2 separate regions of the Homo sapiens genome follow, and region 1 is linked to region 2. A link means that fine-mapping ties the variant in region 2 to the expression of a gene that starts in the linked region. Tissue or cell type: whole blood. Region 2 holds a variant in brackets; the other region holds the start of a gene. Each region is shown on its reference strand, or each on the opposite one.

Evidence for each region.
Region 1: SNAPIN starts here. The variant in region 2 is fine-mapped to the expression of SNAPIN in whole blood (TOPMed, PIP 0.90).

Annotation. Positions count from the first base shown.
Region 1 is chr1:153,655,608-153,660,962 of GRCh38, reverse strand. SNAPIN (SNAP associated protein) reads right to left here and starts at 2,260. Exons shown (of 4, transcript NM_012437.6): 1 at 2,077-2,260; 2 at 1,779-1,825; 3 at 1,397-1,515. The coding sequence starts at 2,219. RefSeq lists an enhancer at 2,415-2,494.
Region 2 is chr13:54,883,466-54,888,847 of GRCh38, reverse strand. No RefSeq gene overlaps it. Among named protein-coding and RNA genes, the nearest start is that of LINC02335, 170 kb to the left of the region's middle. The variant T/C (reference allele first, on the strand shown) is at 2,703.

The sequences.
Region 1 (5,355 bases), not on the chromosome of region 2:
CCCGTCTCTACTAAAAAATACAAAAAAATTAGCTGGGCATGGTGGCGGGTGCTTGTAATCTGAGGCAGGAGAATCGCTTGAAACCGGGAGGTGGAGGTTGCAATGAAATGAGATCGTGCCACTGCACTCTAGCCTGGGTGACAGAGGGAGAACTCCATCTCAAAAAAAAAAAAAAATGTAGGCCAGGCATGGTGCTCATGCCTATCCCAGCACCATTTAGGAGGAAGTGGCAGGAAGATCACTTGAGCCCAGTTTGAGAACAGCCTGGGCACCATAGTGATAGCCTGTCTTTTTTTTTTTTTTTTTTTTTTCCCGAGACGGAGTTTCGCTCTTGTTGCCCAGGCTGAAGTGCAATGGTGCGATCTCAGCTCACCGCAACCTCCGTCCCCCGGGCTCAAGTGATTCTTCTGTCTCAGCCTCCCAAGTAGCTGGGATTACAGGCATGCGCTACCACGCCCAGCTAATTTTGTATTTTTAGTAGAGACGGGGTTTCTCTATGTTGGTCAGGCTGGTCTCCAACTCCCAACCTCAGGTGACCTGTCCACCTCGGCCTCCCAAACTGCTGGGATTACAGGCAAGAGCCACCGCGCCCAGCCGATCCTGTCTTTTTATTTAAAAAAAAAAAAAAAAAGGCCAGGCAGGCCGGGTGCAGTGGCTCACGCCTGTAATCCCAGCGTTTTGGGAGGCCCAGGCAGGTGGATCACTCGCATGCAGGAGTTTGGGACCAGCCTGGGTAACATGGTGAAACCCTGTCTCTAGAAAAAATACAAAAATTAGCTGGACATGGTGGTGCATGCCTGTAGTCCCAGCTACTTGGGAGGCTGAGGTGGATGGATCGCTTGAGCCTGGGAGGTAGAGGCTGCAGTGAGCCTTTATCATGCCACTGCACTCCATCCTGGGTGATAGACCTTGTATCATAAAAATAAATAGCCAGGTGTGGTGGTTCACTCCTGTAGTCTCAGCACTTCGGGTGGCCAAGGTGGGAAGCTCACTTGAGCCCAGGAGTTCCAGACCAGCCTGGGCAACATGGAGAAACCCTACTTCTACAAAAAAATACAAAAATTAGCTGGGCGTTGTGCACGCTTGTAGTCCTAGTTACTCGGGAGGCGGAGGCAGAATTGCTTGAGCCCAGGGGGCGGAGGTTGCAGCGAGCTGAGATTGAGCCACCGCACTCCAGCCTGGGTGACAGAGGGAGACTGTCACACACACACACACAAGAATGTAAATGGCAGCAACTGAATAGTGAGAATGAGACGAATTTTCCTAGGTATTTTTCAAGTACTGGGAGAAGTGAATTTCCCTTTCCCCAAAGAATTTTAAAATTACAGTGGCTTTCACTGTGTTGAGGACTTACAAAAAAGGGCAAAGAATCACTGTTGGTAAGATATTCTTTTACCTGAGCATTCTGTAGAATGTTGTTAACCAAGACAACGCGTCGCCGGGCATTAAGTAGCTTCTTAACATAGGGGTCAAGATCCAGGGCCACCTTCTGATCCTCATTTATGCGGCACAGTTCTGGGGATGGAAGTAAGGTGCAGCTAAGATCTAACGGCTTATCTCTTGTTCTGAGGGAAAGCAGGCTGGTAATGGGATGGAAAACACTTGCACCCAAACGGGCCACAGCCATTAGAGATTTAAGACATCCCTGAAAGGAGGAGTCCTTTGGCAGCCCTGATGCCCTGGAAGCAAGTGACAGAAACTCAGCCCAGGGGTTGGCAAAAACCTAAGGTCCTGAAAGTGGGCTGAAGAATTCCGGGTACACAGGGATGCTCACTCACCTGTGGCTAGGTTGTCAATTTGTTCCCGGAGCTCTACCTGGCTCTCTCTGCAAAGAGGTACAAGGCCTACAAGGTCAGGCAGTTACCGGAGCTCAGGAAACGAACTCCCCTACGTATTTACCAAGTACTGAGAGAAGCCGGCCTCCGCTGAACCCTCCACCTGCGGCCTTCCCGCCTGTCCTCCCCGCCTCGAATCAGTTTCCTAAATTTATGCCCACTCCCAGCCAGAACACTTTCTTGGCCCCGCCCCTACAAAGCCAGAGAGACAGGCCCCGCCCCCAACTTCCCTCCCGGGCACCTGACGGCGTGTACGTGAGAGTCGAGCTGCTGCACAGCGGGTCGCAGGAACTCCAGCAGCCCTTCGGCGAAAAGGTCGCGGCCTGTGGGCCCCGCCACCGGGGTCCCTGCCCCCGATACAGCGGCGGAACCAGCCCCCGCCATCACGAATTGTCCTGAAGCCCGAAACCTGCCGCGAGGGCCGCCGGGAACCGGAGCCGCGCCGCACTGCCCCGCCCCGTGAGGGGGCGCCCGGGAAATGCTGTCTCCACCAAGACACCGGGGTTTCTGGGAAATGGAGTCTAGCGCGAACCGGGCGGGGAGGAGGGCCAGGCCGTAGGAGTAGAGGCCTTGTGGCTGGTCTTGAAAATCTCCAAAGTTCAGGTTGTAGAAAGGAACCAGTTTTTGGAGTGGATACTTTTCGTTTTCTTTAAAGGTGAAAATAAACGCGAATACCTGCAGTTGTCCATAGCCTTCCCATGTTAACTTTATGAGATAGCCGGGCATGGTGGCGGGCACCCAGCTACTTGGGAGACTGAGGCAGGAGAACCGCTTGAACCCGGGAGGCGGAGATTGCAGTGAGCCGAGATCGCGCCACTGCACTCCAGTCTGGGCAACAGAGAGACTCCGCCTCAAAAAAAAAAAAAAAAAAAAAAAAAGCAACCCAAACCAAACAAAAACAAACCAAAAACAAAAACACTTTATGAGAAAGCCACATTATATTCATAGTATCGTTTTCTATTTCTAAAGAGTTTATTGTGGTTGGTTGTTTTTAAGACAAGGTCTCTCTCTGTCGCCTAGGCTGGAGTGCAGTGCCACCGTCTTGGCTCACTGTAGCCTTCACCTCCTGGGGTCAAGAGGTCCTCCTGCTTCAGTCTCCCAAGTAGCAGGGACCACAGGTGTTAGCCACCATGCCTGACTAATTTTTCATTTTCTGTAGAGAAGAGGTCTCACTATGTTTGTTGCCCAGACTGGTCTCGAACTCCTGGGCTCAGGTGATCCTCCCAACTCAGCCTCCTAAAGTGCTGGGATTACAGACGTGAGCCACCACGCCTGGTCTATTTCTAAAGAGTATATTTTTAATGGCATTAAATATGTAAAAAACTGCATGTATCCGAATTTCATTCCTTTTTAAGGCTGAATAATATAAACATGCAGGCAGGGCATGGTGGCTCACTCCTGTAATCCCAGCACTTTGGGAGGCTGAGGCGGGAGGATCACCTGAGCCCAGGAGTTCGAGATCAGTCTGGGCAACAAACCTAGTGAGACTCTGTCTCTACAGGAAATAAAAAATTAGCCAGGCGGCCAGGCGCAGTGGCTCACGCCTGTAATCCCAGCACTTTGGGAGGCCGAGGCGGGTGGATCACGAGGTCAGGACATCGAGACCACGGTGAAACCCCATCTCTACTAAAAATACAAACAATTAGCCGGGCGCAGTGGCGGACTCCTGTAGTCCCAGCTACTCGGGAGGCTGAGGCAGGAGAATGGCGTGAACCCGGGAGGCAGAGCTTGCAGTGAGCCCTGATCGCGCCACTGCACTCCAGCCTGGGCGACAGAGCGAGACTCCATCTCAAAAAAAAAAAAAAAAAAAAAAATTAGCCAGGCATGGTGGCTCACAGCTGTGGTCCCCGCTACTTGGGAGGCTGAAGTAGGAGGACCTTGAGCCTAGGAAGTTGAGGCTACAGTGAGCCAAGATCGTGGCACTGCATGCACTTCAGCCTGGGTGACAGGGTGAGACCCTGTCTCAAAAAATAAAAATTAAAAAAAATTTTTTTTTGAGACCGAGTCTTGCTCTGTCACCCAGGCTGGAGTGCAGTGGTGCAATCTCGCTCACTGCAAGCTCCGCCTCCCGGGTTCATGCCATTCTCCTGCTTCAGCCTCCCGAGTAGCTGGGACTACAGGCGCCCACCACCACGCCCGGCTAATTTTTTGTATTTTTAGTAGAGATGGGGTTTCACCACGTTAGCCGGGATGGTCTCGATCTCCTGACCTCGTGATCCACCCGCCTCGGCCTTCCAAAGTGCTAGGATTACAGGCATGAGCCACCGCGCCCGGCCATAAAAATAAATTTTAAAGTTTCCTTAGTTCACTTATTTTTCCTTTCATTTTTAGAGACAAGGTCTCACTCTGTTGCTGAGGCTGGAGTGCAGTGATGTTATCATAGCTCACTGTAACCTCAAACTTCTGGGCTCGAGCCATCCTCCTGCCTCAGCCTCCTAAGTAACTGGGACTACAGTCACCTGCCCCCATGCCTGGCTAATTTTTTAAATTTTTTTGGTACAGGCAGGGTCTCCCTATGTTGCCCAGGCTGTTCTCGAACTCCTGGCCTCAAGACACCCTTCCATGGTTTTCTTTTTCCCTGAGAATTATGAAGACAATGATTCCTTCCTTAGTTTAGTTCGGTTTGGTTTTTCATGGCTTTCCAGATAATTTACATCTGTCTCCTAGGCTCTAATGTGTTCCCGTGGCTCCCAATTCCCTAGGCCATGGGGAAGGATGTATGAGCAGAAATGCTCCTGGAGGACAGGCAAAGGCATCCATAGTGATAAATGGGCACCAGAACGTTCAGCTTTGAGCTTCATCTTCAGTAATAAAGGAAGATAAGGCATTTGAATCACTGTGAGATTTGGTGGTCAGCAGCTCTAAACCTAAGACCCCAACTGTGATAACTTTTTTTTTATTATTATTTTTTGTAGAGACGAGGCCTCCCTATGTTGCCCAGGCTGGTCTTGAACTCCTGCATCAAGCAGTCCTCCCACCTCGGCCTCCCAAAGTGCTGGGATTACAGGCGTGAGCCACCAAGCCCAGCCCCAACTGTGATAACTTTTAAAACCTTATACACTTACACTGGGTGGGGTGGCTCATGCCTGTAATCCCACCACTTTGGGAGGCTGAGGCGGGAGGATTGCTTGAAGCCAGGAGTTCAAGACCGGCCTGTGCAACATAGGGAGACTCCCATCTCTACAAAAAAATTAATAAAAAAAATAACTGGGCATGGTGGCACACACCTGTAGTTCCTGCTACTCGAGAGGCTGAGGTGGGAGGATCACTTGAGCCTGGGAGGTAGAGGTTGCAGTGAGCTGTGATCATGCCACTGCACTCCAGCCTGGGTGAAAGAGCAAGACTCTGTCTCACACACACACACACCAAAAACCACCTTATACACTTTTTGTCGTTGATTACGTTTGTATCCCTGTATCTTCCTCTCTGGTGATTAGAGGTAAAGCTCTTGCGAGAGGCTAGGAGCTTATTTTGGGAGTAAGTGGCAAGGCAACTGCAACCTGCTTCACAGTCAGGCCTT
Region 2 (5,382 bases):
AACCAAAGGCTTTGCTTTTGAATCTCTCCCAAAGTTAGAGTAAAAGGGCTAAGATAAAGGTAGCCCGATTCTCAGGGCACTCTCTTAAATTCTTGTGGTATATCAAAACATCATTTTGTAGTTGTTGTTCAGATGGATGTGAAAGGAACTAAGAGCCTGGAGTGAACATAGGCTTCCCAAAAGGGTAAGTAAATACAGGAATTGCAAATGTGCAGCGTTCTGAGGAGTGGACCTGTGCCCATTAGATTTTAGTTTTTGTGAGTCTATGGAAGCTTGCATTATAAATGAAGAGGAATAATAATACAGAAAGAAATATCAGACAGTAAACCCTGCAAGGAGAGGACGGAGAACTGACCAGTGGAAAAAATATAAATGCCCTTAAAAGCGAAAGTGTTGAAATCATTTATATGATTATCCTTTAACCCTCTCAAATCAAGTTCAAAGGAGCAGCTTAGTTATTACTATTTAATTGTTTTGCTGATACTTTTTCGTATCTCAGTAACTTTTAAAGCAGCTGTTTCCAGCCCTTTAAACTTGAGGACTTTTTTTGCTTATTTGTGGTGGTGGATATCATGAAAATGATGCATGGACTTTTTTTTTTTTAACTCATCAGCTATCGTTACGTTAGTGTATTTTATGTGTGGCCCAGGACAAGTCTTCTTCTTCCAATGTGGCCAAGGGAAGCCGAAAGGTTGGAGACTAATGTTTTAAAGCATCCAGTTAATTTTTACACTTACAGCTATATATGGCAAGACCAGCTCACTGTATGTATGATAACTTATGGAATCTAGTTACCAATCCAGTTGCAGTTTTGATATTATAATTATTGATTCCTTCATTTAAAGATACTCCAGTGTTACAGATGCTCCAAGATCTGGTGTGACAAAATACCAAAAATTGTCAATTTCTTGTAAACAGTTAGAAGAATAATAGAGATTTTAAAGATTTAATCAGGCCCACAAAAATAGTTAAAAGAGAAAATCAGCAAAAGTAAAATTCTGAATTCAAGTTATCCCTTCAATGTCATGCTTGGAATTGATAAATTCTTCTTCTATATATGTAGCCAACCTAATGGCCAATACATTATCAGAAATTCAAGGAAATCTTGCACATTTGAAATCAGACAATATGTCACTGACTGGCGACTTTGCAGGTAAAGAAAACAGAAAAGGCATGCCATTGACCTTTTATATATAGTAACATTTGTATTATGATCTGACTTCAATAAGCCCACATTGACATAGGGTCATTATGATGTTGCAGGAAAAGCTACCTTTTAAAGTACTCTCTATTGCTTATTTCTTAAAAAATTAACCTACAGCATCTAAAAAAAAACCTTTCATTTTGAATTTCCCTATGCTACAAACATCATCCTTGGGTTCATTTGTTAATGAATATGGCATAGTATCCACATTATTATATTAAAATTGCTGTAAAATAATAGTAAATGAAGAAAAGAAGTAATAAGATAATTAGATGCATGAAACTTCTATCACACATCATCTGTCATTTCACATGTATAAATCTATACAATTTGTAAAGTAAGGAATCATTACAAAATTCTACACTTCCCCATAGCACCAGCAATGAATTTTGCTGAGTAAGAGAAGACCAAAAGTACCCTTTAAGATTTGCATCTACTGCTTTTGCCTTTATTCCTATTGTTCTTAGACTTCACTCTCTATGAAACAATGTTCTTTCAGTACTGTTTTCTTTCTTCAATCATATTTCTAAGAATCGTGCTTTTGAAATTTCTAATTGAAATAGTAAAATGTGTTTCAGCTATTTTTAAGAAAAAATATAGTACTTTGTATTGAATATTATCTATATTTTTGGGTTCGATATTTTTCAATGCTAGATTAATGCGGGAAGGGTAGAGAGAGTCAGAAAAGAATTAACGATGTAAAATAATTCATAATATACATTGTTTTTCCTAGTTCTACTTTTGTCACTTTTGATACTGAAAGGAAGGTGTATGCTTTCAAATTCAGTTATACTTGGAGTGTAAAGCTGTTGCAGGGTTGAAAAAAAGCGTTCGTCAATATCCTGGGGACCCATGCTTACTTCACTTTTGTTTAAACTAACATTGAAATCTAACATTTATCATGGAACAACTCAGAATCTGGAAAACTCCATATAAAATATCAGCCACAGAAATTTTTATAATGAAGGGTACTTCAATGTCTATTTCAAAACTGATTTGATGAATAAAAAAAAGGTCAAACTAAAAATAAATAGATCAAATCAGTTATAAGTGTAGTAACATATGCCCCATTTAATAACGAACTCTAAATTGGCAGCACAGTTTAAGTAGTATCATGAATGCTAATTCTGACAGCAAAGGGTTATGAACTACCTGTCGACTTGCACCCATCACAAGGTCAGGCAGCTATGAGCTAATGAAACCCTGAAGTACCAGAAGGTGAATGACTGACGTGACTAGGCTGGTGGGAAGAAACTGCTGTAGCATGGTGGCACATACAGAATGACATGGTGTCCTGAAATAGAAATGACTGTGATCCCATCTGTTTATAAAGTCTACTTGCTGAAGTTAAAACCTCCCTATCTAAGCAACGTATTTCCTAGGGGATAATTTTTTTACATCCATAAACATTCAGATGTTACAAGTGCTAAACATGTTCAGATTCTCCTTACATATGTGGTTTGCTATTTCTAAAAGGTTTCATTAAATATTTCTGACA[T/C]GTTGAGTAACAATCAAGAATCGCATGTGGAGATTGTAGATCACATAATCGGTTTTACACAACAGCAGATACAAAATTTCTGAAAATGATGATGTCCACAAAGACTTGTTTTAAAAACCTAGTGTCCATGATAGTGATCAAATGGAAATATAATTTATGCTTGTTAAAATTCAGAAAATCAAAGCAAGCCCTAAGCACTAAAGCTCTGATAAAAGCTAAGGCTGTTAATGGGAACATACTTTTAAATTATCAAGTCTGCACTTTTATCATATCCTTCAACTATTTAAAACTCATGAAAACAAATCAGTTTTCTGCTTGTATCACTCTTTTTAAGGACTTCTTTATAGCCCTGACATGTTTTTTCCTGCTTATATAGATGGCTTAATTGTATCTTGGAAGTGAAATATAACAACAATAACAGCAAAAAAGAGGAGGAAATGAATGACTTTTGTAAATAGTTCTTATTCCAGAGAGCAATGTTAAGACAAAAAGAAATTAGATGAAGTAAAATGTATGCACATGCTCTTTTACACACACATGCACACACTGACACTAGTGAGCATTTAGAGTATATATTTAAAATTATTAGCTTCTTATTCCTTTAGGAAATCTTAATAACATTGGTATGGTATAGTACTATCAATGTTTGGTAAAGTTTATTTCTTCTTAGTCAAGAAATGGCTTTAAGTTGAAACTAGATTCCAACATAACTAACCTAGGTTTGGTTAGGACTTAGAAAATTGGAGGAAAACCACAGAATTATCAATACTTTTATCAGTCTTTAGGCTTTTTTCTAATGCACAAGCTATAATTGTGACAACAAATTACAACAATCCCTATATCTATAATTGAGCATATTTCCAATTTACCAAAAGAAAGCATTTTGAGTAGTTAACTGCAATTAGCTTGTGATGTCGCAAAACAGAGGAGCCTGAGAATTGGGGCTTAGTCCAAAAAATAATTCAAGGATGAGCCACTGGTATTAGACAGCAATCTTTTATTGCACTGTACTGCTCCCTTGAGAAGCAGGGCTAACTCATAGGCCATGCACCCGGAGTGGGTCAACCACTGGGCTTTGGGCAATTGCTTTTCTACTCACATAAAGCCACTTTCAATTACATGCAAATTAAGGAGTCCGTCAGTGCAAATAGAAGGGTGGGTTATCTAGAGCTTGCTAGGAAAGGGTTGGTAACTTCTGGGTCAATGCCATGGAAAGGAGTGGTAACTTCTGGGTCATTGCCATGGCATTTGTAAACTGTGATGGTGTTGTTGGGAGTGTCCTATGCTAATGAGCAATAAGGGGAGCTAGGGATTGCTTTCCACATCACCCGCTGGTAGCTGCCAATTTCTTTACTTCATCCTCTGGACCAGACACTGTTTTGGTCAGCACAGTTGTGACCAGAAAACAAGTTCTGCTGGTCTCATGCTCGGTGGGAATAAGTTCATACCTCTTAATGATATCAGAGGTGATCAAAAATAATTTTGGAGCCCCTACTATGTGTGTGGCACCAAGAAACAAAATACTGAAAAAAAAAAAAAGCATTTGGTGGCAGGCAGTGACTCATGCCAGTAATCCCAGCTCTTTGTGAGGTCAAGGCAGACAGATTGTTTAGGAGTTCCAGTTCCAGACCAGTCTGGGCAACATGGTAAAACCCCATATCTACAAATACAAAAAAAGAATAATAAAACAAAACATCAACTCTCATGAGGATTACAGTTCATGTAGATGTTAATCAAATAATACAAAAAAAATGAAATTTAGACAAAGATTTAAATACATACTTTAGATAGATGTTAATCAAATGATGGCATGACTTCTTGTATAATGATCAACTGAGCTACTTTCTACACAACATGTGGCATAGGGCAGTAGGAAACATGATTCTACTAAAAATATAACTGAGAAAAATGACCCAGTTTAGAGGATTAGGGAAGGTGTCCAACATATATTAGAATTTAACTACTACCTCAAGTCAAGTATGACTTAATTAGACAAGTGGATGTACTAAGATAAACCTGCTCAAGAAGAAACTAGCATGAGCCAGAACCCCATATTGATGCACAAGTCATCTTCCAAGAAATGAAGGAAGGCCAGTGTGGGAGAGAGAAGGAGAGCAAGTGGATGAAACTGGCGATGCTGAAGGGCCACAGTGTGTAGCGCCTGGCCAGTCAGTTTAAGGATCTCGTTCTTTATCTAAAGCCCAGTGAGAAACTGGGAAAATTTTAGGAATGTTGGAGCCATGTAAGTCAAATTTAAACACAAGCATCCATGGATGTAAAAGAGACTTAAAAACATAACTGAAGTGGACAGTGGAAAGAAGGGTCAGACTGCAATAAGGCTCTTTATGATGCCTGAGATGAGACTAGAGAGAAAAGTAGGGGTGAAAATATATAAGTCATGCTGGTATAATGCTGTAAATGACAAATAATAGTTATCAATGGAGACATTGGTGGGACTGCTTTGGGGAAATTGTTGTGAAACCAGAACTCATTTTAGAGTGGGTTGAATGGTGAATGGGAAGTAAAGAGAAGACAATTGCTGAAGTAATACAGATAATCTTAGGACACTTAGGAAGAATATTTATGCTAAAAGCAGAAACAAATTAAACGTTCTAAATTCTAACCCTTTTTTTGAACTTGAAGTTGTATATGACATTTTCCTATTCAATAGGTGCCACAA